Regions from separate parts of the Homo sapiens genome. Here regions 2, 3 and 4 are each reported to be linked to region 1. Evidence: microRNA targets listed by miRTarBase, many of them from high-throughput screens and not tested one by one. Region 1 holds a microRNA gene; each other region holds the end of a gene's coding sequence.

The links. The annotated mature microRNA hsa-miR-3179 reads AGAAGGGGUGAAAUUUAAACGU and lies in region 1 at 2,314-2,335, shown strand. An mRNA with a match to its seed (bases 2 to 7 or 8) in the 3' UTR can be bound and repressed. Matches are read on the target gene's strand: a 7mer-m8 pairs with bases 2 to 8, a 7mer-A1 pairs with bases 2 to 7 and ends in A, and an 8mer does both.
Region 2: the mRNA of FAM228A is a reported target of hsa-miR-3179. Seed matches in the 3' UTR shown: 7mer-m8 at 806-812.
Region 3: the mRNA of ADGRL1 is a reported target of hsa-miR-3179. Seed matches in the 3' UTR shown: 7mer-m8 at 1,928-1,934 and 7mer-m8 at 2,385-2,391.
Region 4: miRTarBase lists SDC2 as a target of hsa-miR-3179. Seed matches in the 3' UTR shown: 7mer-m8 at 3,341-3,347.

The regions. Positions count from the first base shown.
Region 1 is chr16:18,492,443-18,496,838 of GRCh38, reverse strand. It overlaps MIR3179-4 (microRNA 3179-4), which reads left to right and starts at 2,263; the gene lies at 2,263-2,346. All of the region lies in intron 2 of LOC105379460 (a long non-coding RNA gene), which reads right to left.
Region 2 is chr2:24,190,367-24,194,366 of GRCh38, forward strand. FAM228A (family with sequence similarity 228 member A) reads left to right here. Exons shown (of 6, transcript NM_001040710.3): 6 at 46-1,332. The coding sequence ends at 265. Among named protein-coding and RNA genes, the nearest start is that of FAM228A, 17 kb to the left of the region's middle.
Region 3 is chr19:14,147,524-14,151,523 of GRCh38, reverse strand. ADGRL1 (adhesion G protein-coupled receptor L1) reads left to right here. Exons shown (of 23, transcript NM_014921.5): 23 at 1-3,781. The coding sequence ends at 651. The region is part of intron 1 of ADGRL1-AS1 (ADGRL1 antisense RNA 1); the gene reads right to left. Among named protein-coding and RNA genes, the nearest start is that of ADGRL1-AS1, 12 kb to the right of the region's middle. RefSeq lists an enhancer at 2,903-3,646.
Region 4 is chr8:96,609,289-96,613,288 of GRCh38, reverse strand. It overlaps SDC2 (syndecan 2), which reads right to left. Exons shown (of 5, transcript NM_002998.4): 5 at 1,499-3,904. The coding sequence ends at 3,741. Among named protein-coding and RNA genes, the nearest start is that of CPQ, 34 kb to the left of the region's middle.

The sequences.
Region 1 (4,396 bases):
TGGCCCCCAGGGATGCACACTGCCTTTGTGTGTGGTCCCCTCCCACACTGAATCAGGCTGGCTCTGTGCGACCAGTGGGAAGTGGTGGAAGTGAGTGATGATGTGTGACTTCTCGGGCTAGGTCGTAACAGGCATTGCACTTTGGCTCTCGGGAAGCCAACTGCCTTGCGTGAGGGTGCTCAGGCAGCCTCGTGGGGAGGGGTGAGGCCCCTGGCCCCCAGCATGTACAGCTTGCCACCACGTGAGTGAGCCAGCTTGGAAGTGAATTTCCCCGCCCCGGTCAAGCCTTCTGGTGAGTGCAACTGCAGATGACATCTGACTTCCACCACTCAAGAGACCCCAGGTCAGTGCTGCCCAGCTGAGCTCTTCCCAGGTTCTTTATGTCCCCCGAAAATGAGCTGTTTTAAGTTTAGAAAACTTAAAAACACAGTGACAATGAAGCACAGATATGCATTACATACAGTCCCAAATCAGTAATGACTTCAAGCTGTGTCCTCTCTTTCCAAGAAAGACAAAGCAGAGAACAAAGTTCAACCTACAGTGTCTTCCCAAATTCTTGACCCACGGGATCTGTGAATATCTTATACGACTGAATTAAGCCTCTAAGTTTTGGGGTAACTCATGCAACATTAGGTAACTGGAATAGTGCTCAATAAATGTCTGTCACATGAATGGGCAGTGACCATGGATGCATTTCTAGTTGTGTATTAGTTAAGGCTCTCTTGGTTTCAAGTAACAGAAATCCAACTCCAACTAGCTTGAGCAAAATGGGGCATTCCTCTGGTCAAGTAACGGAGAAATCCAAGAGTCTCTGGCTTCATGCATAGCGGGACCCAGTCTCAATTTCCACCTCCTGGCTCTGCTTCCCTTGATGCCAACTTTCAGGAATCAGCTTTCTGAAAGACCACTCTGCTAGAAACAGACAGGCCCATCCTTTCAACCAGGTCCAGGACTGTTTGCTCAGTCACTGCTCTCAGAGGCAGGGGCAGAGGCAGATGCCGGGCACACATCCACAGAAGTGGAGATGGCAGGAAACTGAGAGTGGAGTGCTGGAAAGCTGGCTTTTGCCTATGGGTTCCGCTTCTGACATCATCCGGCAATGTCAGGCTTTACATTGCCCCCATCTGCAGACCCAGCAGAAGGACAGCTTCCATCCCACCACATCAATATGCCAGTCCTGGGGCGGGGGAAGGACTTATGGGCAACCTTTGCAGAATCACTGGGGCCTGGCCGCACATGAGCCATGCCCACGCTCATGTGACAGGCGGCCCCTGTGCCTGGGGTGCTGTATTACCCAGAGGAATAAGTGATCCTGGGTGGGCAAAAGCAACAGAAGAGAAGTCAGCTCCACTTCCTTCCAAAACTTGAGAAGGCCTGGTCAAAATCACCCTCCAGGCCCGGTGTGGTGGCTCATGCCTGTAATCCCAGCACTTTGGGAGGTTGAGATGGGCAGATCATGAGGTCAAGAGATCGAGACCATCCTGGCCAATATGGTGAAACCCTGTCTCTACTAAAACTACAAAAATTAGCTAGGTGTGGTGGTGGGCGCCTGTAGTCCCAGCCACTCGATAGGCTGACAGGAGAATCACTTGATCCAGGGAGTCGGAGGTTGCAGTGAGCCGAGATCGCACCATTGCACTCTAGCCTGGCGACAGAGTGAGACTAAAAAAAAAAAAAAAGAAAAAAGAAAAAAATCAGCCTCCATTTTTGGCTTTCTCTTTCATTAGAAAAATGAACCTGACTTTATGACCATGACAATGAAATGCCTAGAGAAGGGAGCACTCATTTTCCAGTGGGCCTACTGTGTGCTGGGGTGGCGAGACTCTTCCTGCCCTGGAACTTGGTGAGGTCAGGAGGGAAGATATTATATGACTGCCTTCCTCTGTACTTTTTCAGTGGGGGCAGGTGTTTATGCTTGATGATGTAATGGTGAGATCTTGGTTGGAATATGAACTTTTCTTTCTTTTTTTTTTTTTAGATGGGTTCTTGTTCTGTTCCCCAGGCTGGAGTACAATGGCACCATCACAGCTCACTGCAGCCTTGATCTCCCAGGGTCAAGGGATCATCGTGCCTCAGCCTGCTGAGTAGCTGGGACTACAGGAGTGCACCACCACACCTGGCTAATTTTTTTAAAAAAAATCTTTGTAGAGATGAGCTCTCACTAGGTTGCCCAGGCTGGTCTTGAACTCCTGAGCTCAAGCAATCCTCCCACCTTGGGCTCCCTAAGTGTTGGGATTACAGGCAAGAGTCACCACGCCCAGCCAGGATCACAGACGTTTAAATTACACTCCTTCTGCTGTGCCTTACAGCAGTAGAAGGGGTGAAATTTAAACGTCTGTGATCCTGGGGTTGTTGAAGATGCCACCCATCTACATATTCTTTCAGATGCACAATATTTCACTGTGTGAATGAAACAGCAGCCCTTCTTACGTGTGCTTTTTGGAATTTGAAGATTTTGTAAGATAAGATGAATGCATTGGAACAAGTGATCCTCAATTCTGTGCAGTCTGTGCCTCCGGAGACTGGCGGCTGCCCCTCCCTGTCTAGTCTTGCAAGAGAGGCAGCTGGCAAGAGGACAGAAGCCGGCAGCTGCTGCGTTTTCATCCTGTTTCTGCTCTTGGAGCTGAGGGGGAGAGGTGGCTAGCAGCCACCCAGTGATCAAACTTGCAGCCTGCCTCTCTTGCTTCCTTTTCACAGACTGGAGTGTGCCTGGGTATGGAGAAAGAACATTTTGCTTCTTGCCTCTCAGAGTTTCAAGAACGCCTCACCTGAGTGGCATGCATTCATGGAATGAGTAATTATTACAGTGGAGAACTCCTCACTGTGAATTAATTACACAGATGATATTCAAGACTTAGACTGGGCTAGTGCAGGGGTTAGCAAACTATGGCCCACTGTTCTTGTTTTATAAATAAAGTGTTATGAGCACACAGCCATGCCCATTCATTTGCAGATTATGGCTGCTTTTGCCTGACAGTGCCAGATGTAAGTAGTTGTGGCAAAGACCAGGTAGCCTAAAAAGCCTAAAATACTTGCTATCTGGGTCTTTACAGAAGACATTTTGTTGTTGTTGTTGTTGTTTTTGAGATGGGGTCTTTCTCTGTCACCCAGGCTGGAGTGCAGTGGTGTGATCTCAGCTCACTGCAACCTCCGCCTCTTGGGTTCAAATGATTATCGTGCCTCAGCCTCCCTAGTAGCTGGGATTATAGGCGCCTGCCACCAAGCCTGGCTAATTTTTGCATTTTTAGTAGAAACAGGGCTTTACCATGTTGGCCAGGCTGGTCTCAAACCCCGACCTCAGATGATCTGCCTGCCTCAGCCTCCCAAAGTGCTGGGATTACAGGTGTGAGCCACTGCGCCTGGCCTAGAAAATGTTTTCTAACCTGTTGTCTAGTGGGTGCTTTGTAAAGTTTAGTTTTAGGGGGAGCATCATTAATTCATTCAACAAGTATTAACTGAGCATCTCCCCTGTGCTGGGTGCTGCTTGGCATACTGGGGGTTTAGTGGTGTGAGAGAGACCGAGCCTCAGCTCTTAGGAGCACAGTGCTGATGGAGGACGAAAGGTAAACACACACATTAGAAGTTGTTGGATAATGCCAGGCGTTACGAAGAAAAGAAGCAGAACAAGGCAATGTGACAGAGGATGATTGGTATCATGGAAGGTCTCTCTGAGGAGGCAGCATCTGAGCTGAGACCTGAGGAGGGGAAGGGCCAGTTATGCAAAGATCTGGGGGAAGAGCTGCCCAGGCAGAGGGGACCATAATTGCAAAGGCCCCCAGGAGGAAATGAGCTCCCTGAGTTTCAGGAATAGCAAAGAGGCCAGGGTGGCCAGAGTCAAGTGATTGAGAGGAAGAGATGAGAACGATGGCAGGGACCGGGTCATGTGGGTGCCCTGGAAAGGAGTTTAGATTTTATTCTAATGGCAACAGAAGGCATTGGAGGGTTTAAGTAGGGAAAGGGGAGTGATCTGATGTATGTTTTTAAACAATTGCTTCTTTAAATTTTGAGGAGATTGGATTATTGGGAAGCAAGAATGAATTTAGGGAGAGAAGCAAAGAGGACGTTGTGTTGGTTTAGGCAAAAGACAGCAATGGCTTGGATTGGGGTGATGGAAGTAACAGTGGCAGGAAGTGGTGAGCTTGGGGCTATGCTTCAGAGATAGAGCAGAAAGGTCTTGCTGATGTATTTAATACAGGAGGTGAGGGAAGGGAGGAATCAACGATAAGTGAATCGTTTGTTTCTAGCTGAACCACTGAAATGTGTAGGTAAATTGAGACTTCTGTTTTGGCCATCGTGAGTTTGAGATGCTTATCAGACACCCGAGTCTGCAGCCTGGGTGAGAAATCACGGCTGGAGATGAGACGTGGTGAGCTGGGAGTGTTTTTGGATGACAGAT
Region 2 (4,000 bases), not on the chromosome of region 1:
CCATCTGTGCTGAATCGAGACAATTTTTTCTGCTTTTCTTCACAGTCCTGAAAAGCTCATCTATGCAGACAAGAAACAGAAAAGAAAAGAGAAAAAGACGGCCGACCTAAGTCAGGCTGCGTTTGAAAGGCAGTTCCTTTCCTCAAAGCTCAGCCAGAAGAACAAAGTGGGTGAAAGAAAGGGTCTGGTGAGCAGAGGCCTGGGGCGGGGCTGGCATGCAGGGCTTTGCAGCACCCACGAGCAGCACATACTGGTTCCAGAATGAGCCACCGCCACAGCCCTCCCTGTCAGACAGGCACCCAAGGGCGGAGGAGGCATGGCCCAAGAAGAAGGGTGTGAAGAGGAGGAGGGAGAAATGGCGGTGGCCTCAGGCTCAGCACTGCAGCTCTGACAGGGCCCCTCGGGCGGGGAAGCCTTGCATGAAGAAACTCAGACAAGTGGTAAATGTGGGACCTGGACCCCACTTTCCGGAGACATCCTGTCCTTCCGAGGTGAGGGCCAACCTGGCCACAGGGGCTTTTCCCCCTGAGATTTCTTCAGCGCCTTCGCCCGGGCCTTTGCCCTTCTGCCACTTTCCTACCATTTTCCACTTACTCCATCCAAACTGCACCAAAGATGGTGTTCTCCTTAGTCCACACACAACTGGTGGGAAGTTTTTGAAATGAAATTTATACCAAAAAATTAGGGCAAGATGAGATTTTTTGATATTTAAAAGGTATTTTTATATGTAGGAATTTTCTGAGTATGGATTTCTTATCCAGAGCTCATGGTTCATTTGACACAGTTTTCAGCTCCTGGTCTATTTCCCCTTCCATTCTCTCCGCCACGCCCTGTGCCCTGAGGCCTGAGGCGCAGGACCCTCCCAGGGAAGGCCTAGGGGGCTTGGTGGGCCACCGCTCAGCTCAGGACCTGACAGCGTCACTCCCACCCTCACCACCACACACACAGGATGGGGGACTGCTGCTGCTTTCCAGCCTGTGAGCCTGGATAGGTATTTTGTGACCCAGCTCCTGCTCAGTCCCATCGCTGTCCCCGGTCTCTCCAGGGAGTAAGGGATTCTCCGTCTGTGGTAAGTTACCTGTGACTCTTCAGCAGTTTCCTCTGAGCATAATTATATCTGAGAGCACAGGGAGCTCCTCATTCCATGTATTTTTCAAATATTCAAGATGTACAACGTGATGATTTGCTATAGGTATTCATTGTGAAATGTTTGCCACAGTCAAGCTTGTTGACATACCCACCAGCTCACATTTACTGTTTTCGTGTGTGTGGTGAGAATACTCACAATCTACTCTCTGAGCAAACTGCAAATATATGTTATTAGTAACTGTAGTATCTGTGTTGTCCATTAGGCCTCTAGAACCTACTGTTACTCATGGAGGGTCTTCACTATGAGTTGTTCAGGTCCTTGGCATTTTGAACAAAGAATTGACCAAAACACACAGAGTAGCAGAGGAATGAAACGCGGGAGCGAAGCAGCGAAAGCAGAGATTTATTCAAGACAGAAAGCTCTGCAGGGTGGGAGCAGACCCAGCAAGGGCTCAAGGGTGTTAAGTTCCCTGTTTGAGGTTCTTATCTGCTACCCCTTATCTGGATGAAGGATTTGGTCCCTGGCTAATTAAAGGCTGAGGTGAATTGGCGCTCTACGCAGATGAAGGGATGGTCCCTGTGTTGGCTGCAGCTAATCCAGGGCACTCTCCCTTTCCATCTAAGACGTTATAGGGAGAGTAGCCTTTGATCTTTTGCTGCTTGGCTTGGGGAGATGGGGTTTTCTGTTTGGTTCCGCTTTCAGAAGTGTGTGTTAATTGGCCTCAGGTTCCCTGCCCCCAGACCCAGGTGTTTTCCTTTTGACCCAGCTTTGGGAAGGCAGCTCGAATTGGCCTTGGATTTCCTGCGCCCAGACCTTGCTGTTTTCTCAGACCTTGCTGTTGTCCCTGTCTCCAGACCCTGTTCTCCTGCCTCAGTACTTACCACAGAAAGTTTGTACCCTTTGACCAACACCTGTCACCTCACTGCCCCCACGCCCTGACTCTGGTATCCACCCTTCTACTCTGGATGGGTTTGACATCTTTAGATACCACATATTGTTACAGGAAAGGGGTCCTGATCCAGACCTCAAGAGAGGTTTGTTGGATCTCAAGCAAGAAAGAATTCACGGCCAGTCCACAGTGCAAAGTGAAAGCAAGTTTATTGAGAAAGTAAAGGAATAAAAGAACGACGACTCCATAGAGCAGCCCTGAGGGCTGCTGGTTGCCCATTTTGTGGTTATTTCTTGATGATATGCTAAATAAGGGGTGGATTATTCTTGCCTCCCCTTTTAGACCATATAGGATAACTTTCTGACCTTGCCATGGCATCTATAAACTGTCATGGCGCTGGTGGGAGTGTAGCAGTGAGGGTGACGAGAGGTCATTGTCGTCGCCATCTTGGTTTTGGTGGGTTTTGGCTGGCTCTTTTTTATTAGCCTGTTTTATCAGCAAGGTCTTTATGACCTGTATTTTGTGCTGACCTCCTATCTCATCCTGTGAGTTAGAATGCCTCACCGTCTGGGAATGCAACCCAGTAGGCTTTAGCCTTATTTTACCCAGCTCCTATTTAAGATGGAGTTGCCCTGGTTCACACACCTCTGACAATATGAGATCAGGCAGTATTTGTCTTTCTGTGCCTGGCTTCTTTCACTTACCATAACATCCTCCACATTCACCTATGTTGTTGCAAATGACAGGACTTCCTTCTCTTCTCAGGCGGGTTATTGGTCCATGGTATGTGTACCATATGCATTTTCTTTACCAGTTCATGTCAGCAGACACTTAGGTTGTTCCCATTTCTTGGCTATTGTGAATAATGCTGCAGTGAACACGGGAGTGTAGATATCCCTTCAAGATGGTGATTTTATTTCCTTTGAATATATGTATATACACCTGGAAGTGGGATTGCTGAATTGTATGGTCATTCTATTTTTAGTTTTTTTTGGAAACCTCCATGCTGTTTTCCGTAATGGCTGTAGTGATCTACATTCCACCAACAGTGTACAAGGGTACTGTTATTTTTTTTTTTAATTTTATTATTATTATACTTTAAGTTTTAGGGTACATGTGCACAATGTGCAGGTTTGTTACATATGTATACATGTGCCATGTTGGTGTGCTGTACCCATTAACTCGTCATTTAGCATTAGGTATATCTGCTAATGCTATCCCTCCCCCGCTCCCCCAACCCCACAACAGTCTCCGGAGTGTGATGTTCCCCTTCCTGTGTCCATGTGTTCTCACTGTTCAATTCCCACCTATGAGTGAGAACATGCAGCGTTTGGTTTTTTGTCCTTGCGATAGTTTGCTGAGAATGATGGTTTCCAGTTTCATCCATGTCCCTACAAAGGACATGAACTCATCATTTTTTATGGCTGCATAGTATTCCATGGTGTATATGTGCCACATTTTCTTAATCCAGTCTATCGTTGTTGGACATTTAGGTTGGTTCCAAGTCTTTGCTATTGTGAATAGTGCTGCTATAAACATATGTGTGCATGTGTCTTTATAGCAGCATGATTTATAATCCTTTGGGTATATACCCAGTAATGGGATGGCTGGGTCAAATGGTATTTCTAGTTCTAGATCCCTGAGGAATCACCACACTGACTTCCACAATGGTTGAACTAGTTTACAGTCCCACCAACAGTGTAAAAGTGTTCCTATTTCTCCACATCCTCTCCAGCACCTGTTGTTTCCTGACTTTTTAATGATCGCCATTCTAACTGGTGTGAGATGGTATCTCATTGTGGTTTTGATTTGCATTTCTCTGATGGCCAGTGATGATGAGCATTTTTTCATGTGATTTTTGGCTGCATAAATGTCTTCTTTTGAGAAGTGTCTGTTCATGTCGTTCACCCACTTTTTGATGGGGTTGTTTGTTTTTTTCTTGTAAATTTGTTTGAGTTCATTGTAGATTCTGGATATTAGCCCTTTGTCAGATGAGTAGGTTGCAAAAATTTTCTCGCATT
Region 3 (4,000 bases), not on the chromosome of region 1:
TTCCCTCCCGGGGATGGGGGCCCTGAGCCGCCCCGAGGCCGGAACCTAGCCGATGCGGCGGCCTTTGAGAAGATGATCATCTCAGAGCTGGTGCACAACAACCTGCGGGGGAGCAGCAGCGCGGCCAAGGGCCCTCCACCGCCTGAGCCCCCTGTGCCACCTGTGCCAGGGGGCGGGGGCGAGGAAGAGGCGGGCGGGCCCGGGGGTGCTGACCGGGCCGAGATTGAACTTCTCTATAAGGCCCTGGAGGAGCCTCTGCTGCTGCCCCGGGCCCAGTCGGTGCTGTACCAGAGCGATCTGGACGAGTCGGAGAGCTGCACGGCCGAGGACGGCGCCACCAGCCGGCCCCTCTCCTCCCCTCCTGGCCGGGACTCCCTCTATGCCAGCGGGGCCAACCTGCGGGACTCACCCTCCTACCCGGACAGCAGCCCTGAGGGGCCCAGTGAGGCCCTGCCCCCACCCCCTCCCGCACCCCCCGGCCCCCCCGAAATCTACTACACCTCGCGCCCGCCAGCCCTGGTGGCCCGGAATCCCCTGCAGGGCTACTACCAGGTGCGGCGTCCTAGCCACGAGGGCTACCTGGCAGCCCCAGGCCTTGAGGGGCCAGGGCCCGATGGGGACGGGCAGATGCAGCTGGTCACCAGTCTCTGAGGGCACCTCATGGACCAGGGGCTGGTGGCCCAGGCCAGGGAGGGAACCCTGGGCAGGGCTCTGGTGGGAGAGGGAGACAGATGGAGGCAGTGGCTGGTGGGCCACTCTCTCCAGGTGCCCCTCAGCCATGGGCCCTACAGTCCCCTCAGGGGACTCTAACCTGGGGGCCTGAGGTGCCAGGGTTCACAGACAGGGTTTCCCACCAGCCACACGCACCAGCTCTATTTGGGGGAAGTGTAGTGAGGAGGAGCCCAGAGGACCCCAGGGGAGTGAGGAGGGAGAACTTGGAAGGGTGCAGCCCACTTCCAGACTCTCCCCTCTCCCACCCTTCTACCCTGTGAAGGGAAATGAGGGCTTTAGTTTCCTGGGCAGGGAGGGGCAGCTTCTGAGGTTGCCAAAGGCCCCCACTGGATGGAACCTGTTAGCTGCTCCTCTCCGCAGCCAGAAATGCTGCCGGCTGCACCCAGAGGGAGCAGTGAGGCAGGACAGATGGACAGGTTCCTCCTGCGCTGTAATTCCCTGCTCCCTGGAGACTGGGAAAAGGCCGCAGGGCAGGGGGACTGGGCGGTGGTGGCTGGTGGTTTAAAGGTTGAACTTTCTCTGAAGCTCCTTTCCCCTTGCTCTTGGTCCCTGCCCCGCAAGCAAACCTGCCCCCTCTGCCTCCCAGTGCACCCAATGACCCCCTCCCTTGGGGCGACTCCTGATGAAGCACAACTCCCCGCAGGGCCCCCAGCCCACAGGGGTGGCCATATTTGGGCAGTTCCCAGTCCTGTGGGCTCGGCTATCTGGGGAGCAGATTTTGGGTCTGGATCTCCCTGGGGAGTGGGTCCTGGGCTTGGATCTTTCCCTAGGGGGCCCTCTTACTCCTTCCTCTCTCCTCCTCCTTCCCCATTGCTGTAAATATTTCAACGAAATGGAAAAGAAAAAAAAAAGACAAAAAAAAAAAAAAAGAAAAGAAAAAAAATCTCATCACTTGAAGCCACCGGGAGCCTGCGGCCCGGGCCAGCCCGGGCTTTCTCCGGAGCAGAGCAGCGCTGCTGGCCTGGCAGCCAGGACTTCTCCGTGTACGTGCATCCCCAGTCCCCGCCGGGGCGGGCGGGCCGCCAGAGCAGCTTTTTACAATCCAGAGACAGAAAACAAAATCTAGATGCAACAGCGAAACAAAGAACCCATTTCCTTCCTGGCACCCTCCTTTCCTGCTCCGCCTGCCCGGCATCATCAGCCCTTCTGGGGCGTGTACCTCTCACTGCCTGCCCCAGGACCAGAGGCCTGTCTCCCCCTTCCCTCCCCACCGGCCCGGGGGAGACCTCTTCACACCCAAAGATGCTTTGTCAAGATGGCTGCGCTGTCCCTTTGAGTTCCTGCTTCTTGTATATTGCTCTGGGGACTCTCGCCGGGGAAGATGGGGCTGATTTCCCACCTAGAGAGGTTGATGGCAGAAGGAAAATGGGGAGGCACTGGGGTTGTGGAGGGCATGGGTATGGCTGAGGAGGGTGCTGGGAACGGCAAGGCGGTCTGGGGGATGGGGAGGGGCAAAGGTGAGAGATCACCTTCCCTATCCTCCACCTTCCCGCAGGGAAGACGAAGCCAGGTGCCAGGGCTGGGGTCGGGACACCCATGTTCTGGGCGGCTTGACCCCAAATCCCAGACCCCGGAAGCTCCAGGCTCGGGATGTGTCCTGAGCACCTGTCCCGGCCCCCTCCTCTCCAGCCTGTCAGGCCAGCCTCCCCAGCCCCCTTCCCTCAACTCTAGGGGCAGCATAGCCCCAGGCCACCCTAGCCCAGCCCCTGCATTGCCGTTTCCCCAGAGGTGGCCCCTCCACCTCTGCTCTGACCTCTCCCCATCTCTCTGCCCCTCCTTTTCTCACAAGTGCCATGAGTTTTCAAACATCTTCGGGTCTCAGCCTGCTGCTGCCATGAACTTTGTTGGGTTAAGGGGGAGGGGCTCTAGGAAGGAACTGGGGGGAAGGGGACAGGTAGGTGGCTGGAGGGACCCTTTTTGCTGCTAGAAAGCCCCTCCCTTCTCCCGGGGAGCTGGGGCTGGCTTGTCCCCATCAATTAGGGGAGAAGGGGTCAGACCAAAGATGGTGGTTTGTCCCGTGTAAGGGAACAGGTGTGGGGAAGAGGTGGGGTTGGGTTCCAACTCTGGCTTTTTCTGGTAGAAAGGCCTAACCCATTACACCAGAAGACCATGGGTGAAGTCTAGATGGGGAGGAGAAGTGAGGCCAGGGACAGTCTTGCCAGACGACTCTGAGGAGGGCAAGGGACAGTTCCATGGCCCTTCCCGGACTGCACTAGGCTGGGAGCTCTGTTGTGTGGAGGGGTGGTCAGAGGTCTGTGAAGAGCGGGCAGGAGGCATGAGCAGGCGAGGAGCTGGCCTGTCCCGGGAAGCAGCCCAGCCTGTGGCTGCCCCCGACACCAGGAGGAGGGCCAGGAGAGTTCCAGGGGGCTGAGGCACACAGAGAGGCCAACTTCCTCCCTGCCCAGCCTTCCTTGTATCTCTCCAGACTCGGACAATCAAAGGGAGAGAGGGTGTATCGGGTCCTGTTCCAGCCGGCATCGCCGGGTGGCTTCCAGGCCTCAGAGCTGTGTGGCAGGGCCCCCTGCTGGGGCTGGACATCACTGCAGTCCAGTGCAAAGCCGCCCCCAGAGCCCAGGTGTCCCCCCAACCTAACCAGACCTGGTGCCTTGACGCCCCCACCCCAGCTGGGACGGTACAGAGAAGGGTCTTGGTTTCCTCTCCTACTCCCTTCCTTAGGCTCCTGAACTCGTTTGCTCCTAAATCTTGTTAATTCTTTTTCTCTGGATTTTGGTTTCTTTTGGCTTTCCCTTGCCTTCCCCTTTCTCTGTCTCCAACACTCTTTCCCCATGTCTTTCTGGCTGTCTCTATGTTCCTCTTCTCTTATCCTCAACTTTCTGTCCATTCGGGCCTCCTCCCCACCTCCCACGCCCCAGCCCCTCCCTCCTTGGTCTCCTTTTCGATATGCCAAACCAATTTTGGGTCGAGTGCATTTAACGAGAACAAAACAAAAGGCTCATAACAACAAGAACGTTTCAGAAAAAAACAAAAAGTTTTAAAAAAATTGTTGAGTCAAAAAGTCAAACAATAAAGAAATTAAGATTTCTTGGAATGACAAGAGTGGTGTGACTTCTTGAGTGGGGGAGTAAGAAATGGGTGAATAGCTGGGCGCGGTGGCTCAGGCCTGTAATCCCAGCATTTTGGGAGGCCGAGGTGGGTGGATCACTTGAGGCCAGGAGTTTGAGACTAGCCTAGTCAACATGGTGAAACCCCATCTCTACTAAAAAGACAAAATTAGCTGGGCGTGGTGGCAAGCACCTGTGGTCCCAGC
Region 4 (4,000 bases), not on the chromosome of region 1:
GATTTTATTTCCACTCTGCAACCCACACCAAGTTCATGAAAGCTCCACGTGAGCAGGGTCCTTGTCTGTGTAGTTCACCGCCATACCTTCTGCTTCTTTAAGTTTCCAGTGCATAGTCAGGCAAATATTTGACTGAACTTCTGATGGATTGCACATACAAGCATTTGTTTTTTGAATGCTATTTTGCCAACAAAACTGGAATAAATGCATCTTGCACTCAGCATCTCTGAAGCACCAAAGCCTAACATTTCACTCTGCTATTTGCGGGTTGGATTGACGGCTTGGGTTACACCCTTCCAGCTAATTCGCAGGAAACCAAGTTGCTCTCAGAGTTGCCACGATTCCATGGTCAGAAAAGGCCCTGCTAAAGACCATATACAGCAGATAAACAAAAATAAATGAAACTTTACAACCATAAACTGTAAGAGTGAAGTCACCCAGAGTTTGGAGACAGAGTGGGACAGAAGTGATTTTGGTAACTGTTTTTATCACTGAAAGATGTGGTTTTACCCTTTTAAAGTTTTTTGTGCTGACTTAATGTAATTCCCCAGAAATGGCCAAGTCTCAAATTTCACAATTGTCATAAAATATTAGAACCAAAAAAAACCTTAGTGATCACTCACTTCAGATTACTCCATTTATCATCTGGCTTAATTTTAATTGGAAACCTCTTAGGGTCTCACCGATGTCTGGTGTGGGCTTAGAATTTAGAAGTTCACATTAGAGATAGTGTAGCTCAAAGTTGTTGCCTTTTTTGGTACTACCAAGTATGTTTAAAAATATTTTTTTCTCTACCACCCCCTTATGAAATTATAGTAATGCTATAAAGATCACACTTATAAAATTAACCCCACAATATTTCTAGGTTTTATATTTTTGCTCACCTAACATCTTTCCTTGATGTTTCAAAATGTCTAAGATATTGAAGAAATAAGCTCCTTAGAACTATGAAGTAGGACACAGTAGTTTCTTTAGGGACACTTGAAGAAAGTAATCATATTCTATTTAATTAGCTTACTCTCCTAGACCTAACAGACTACATCCATAACAAGTACATTTTGTCTAACTTGCAAAAAAGTGCATGGACAAAAATTCAGTAAACGTTTGATGAGAAACTATCAACCCTTAAGAAATGGCAATTTTTATAATCTTGTTCACTTTTATTAAACAGGTCCTAATCCTGAAATTCAGGTACTACGCACCTGCAACTAAAACTGAAAAACAAAAATAAAACCCAAGTGCTTCCTATTCCCCCTACGGGCTGAAAATGGGACAGTGTGACTATCTCAAGTCTCTCAAACACAAAGCCATATTCACTCAAGAGAAATCGTTTACATGTGGTTAAGGAAACAGGAAATTTTCACATTGGCTTTAATATTTACATTTTACCAAAATTTTCCTGAACTCAGTAATCATTACTAACACTTTTTATAGTATTATTTACTGCATCTTAAAAAAAAAAAACTAAGCAGAAAGTGTACAGTTGAAGAAAACTGGATGTCAGTCTATACAATGATTTACTTTTGGCATGACAGACTTTATTTTGGCACTTTCACAAATATTTTGCTTTACAGCAGTGACAAAATATTTGCCAGAAATTTTTCTTTTCCTGGCACGGATATTCCCAGCAGTTGTTATTCTATGAATTGAATTTCACTCTGCTTTGCACAGTTAGAGGTATACCCATTCCTACCCTCTGTAATTGAGGGACACAGCGTGGCTTTAGAAAGCTAGGCTATCGTTTCCTTTTAGTCACTCTAAAGTGAATTGGTTCTGTAAGTGATGGGGCAGGAATCTGAGAATTAATTAAGGCCATTAAGGATTTAAAGTAAACACTGTTCCAAGTGTTGCTTAAAAAAATGTTTTTAATGAATTATGTGGCAATTCCAGGGAATGTTCTCAAAATGAAATATTCATACTTTATTAAAAGTAAATTGTATGTTGGAAAAGTTGCTTTTTTTGCTGTCTTCTTCTGACTTGGACGGCTCACAGTTTAAAACAAAATTAGTGGTAAAATAGAAAAAGGAAATGTTTAGTACAGAAAGTACCAGCCACAGTACCCTCATAACTCCATCTCCTTCCCCAGGCATCACTCTTTCCAGCCACTTCAATCCTAAAGCAGTGAGACCCTCATTTTAACACACAGAGCCTCCCTGCCTACCCTCCTTCCCTGTAACGTGAGCTACTGTAGTCCATTTATTAGTTCTTCGGTTAAGCTTCAGTAGACATTTGGAGCACAATTCCAAAGGTAAATCAATCTATAGGCCTAAGCCTTAGATACCAACATCAGGAAAGCCCCATTCAGATCTTTGGAATTTACAGTCTTGTAAGTTATTTGCAAAAGCAGGCGTCTGTCTTAATATTGCCATCAGTTATCCTATAAAGGTTGCAAACTTCGAAATCCCCTGGCAGCCTTCCAATATCTCTACCTAGACACACACAGGATAATACATTCAGATTTCCTCTGGCCAATTCAGAAGTGAATCTGGTAATAAACAGTCTCATCGACAGGCTCTTTGGTCTTGATTTACAGACACTGTGAAACACTTAGAAATCAAACCCACGTCATCCTTGAGAGCAGACGGCCGTTAGCAAAGGGGAGATGTACATTTGATCAAAAATGTACAAAATTTATAACAGTGACATTTTCAATATTAGGCCACATGATTTATTCAGTAGTTTTTATGTTCCCAAATTACAATTTATGTCTATTCATAAGACTACAAAAGTTACCATTAGAATTGTCTGTGCTTATAAAATACCAACTTTTTTTTTAAACTGTTACATATACTCATTAACACCAGTCTGCAACAAGTTACATAGAATCAGAGGCACTTCAAAGGCTTAAAAAGACGTTTACAACTTAAATGCATTTTTAAGAACAAAAACTGATTTTTCTTTAAACCTCTACTCGTACCTTCAAATTGCAAGAAATTAACAAATACAGTGGCCAAAGGAATCTGCAGCAACTTCTTAAAATACTGTTAACATCTTTGGGTTTGCTGAGGCTTGTCAGTAACTTACATCAAATCCTCCCAAAAGAAGATCTGATTAGATAGATATGACTAAACGGTTTTGTAGTAATAATCCAATTTTACACATTAATTTGCTGTTGCAAATCTGCCCAAAGCTACAGGTAATGAAAAATAAAGCAAGTGTAAAATGGATAGTCTGACACTTAAAAATTTATACAAAGTGGAAGTTAAAGTTTACATATTTGAAAATCACATATACACTAAATTACCATTATCTGAATTTTCCAAAGACAAATTGCACCATGACAGCTACAAAAGGCATAGGGTTTGGTTTTAAGGGCACAAGAAGGGAGGGCAGAGGAGAGGAAGGGGACAACAGATAAATTAACAAAGTAAGACCAACTTGGTAAGGTCAATCTGAGACATGCTGACACAAATGAAACAGCTTTCATCTTTGAGTCATAGGAAAAAGACAATCATTTTGTATTTGCGCATAAAAGTTTAAACCAATTCCATGAACATCGAGGGTTTTCATAACATAATATTTTGCCACTGCTATTCACAGAACACTGCAGATGTTAAATTTTAATTTTATGTTGTTCTAAAGAAATACATGAAATGTTTTAAATACAATGGGATTTTATCATTAAAGTGCCAGAATGGCTCTTTAATGAAAACAAAAAACAAAGATCTTCATTATTCTATGCAAAAGCTTTATTTTGAAAAGTTCAGTGATCTCATAAATAGAGACACTAAGTTGGAGTTTTACGCATAAAACTCCTTAGTAGGTGCCTTCTGATAAGCAGCACTGGATGGTTTGCGTTCTCCAAGGTCATAGCTTCCTTCATCCTTCTTTCTCATGCGATACACCAACAGCAGGATAAGAAAAATTGCAAAGAGAAAGCCAATAACTCCACCAGCAATGACAGCTGAAACAACCAAAAGGAAGATTACTTTAGAAGAGATTCAAGGGTTGCAGACATTAGCTTTATTGTCAAGCCTAATCTACTTACACTTTTATAAAA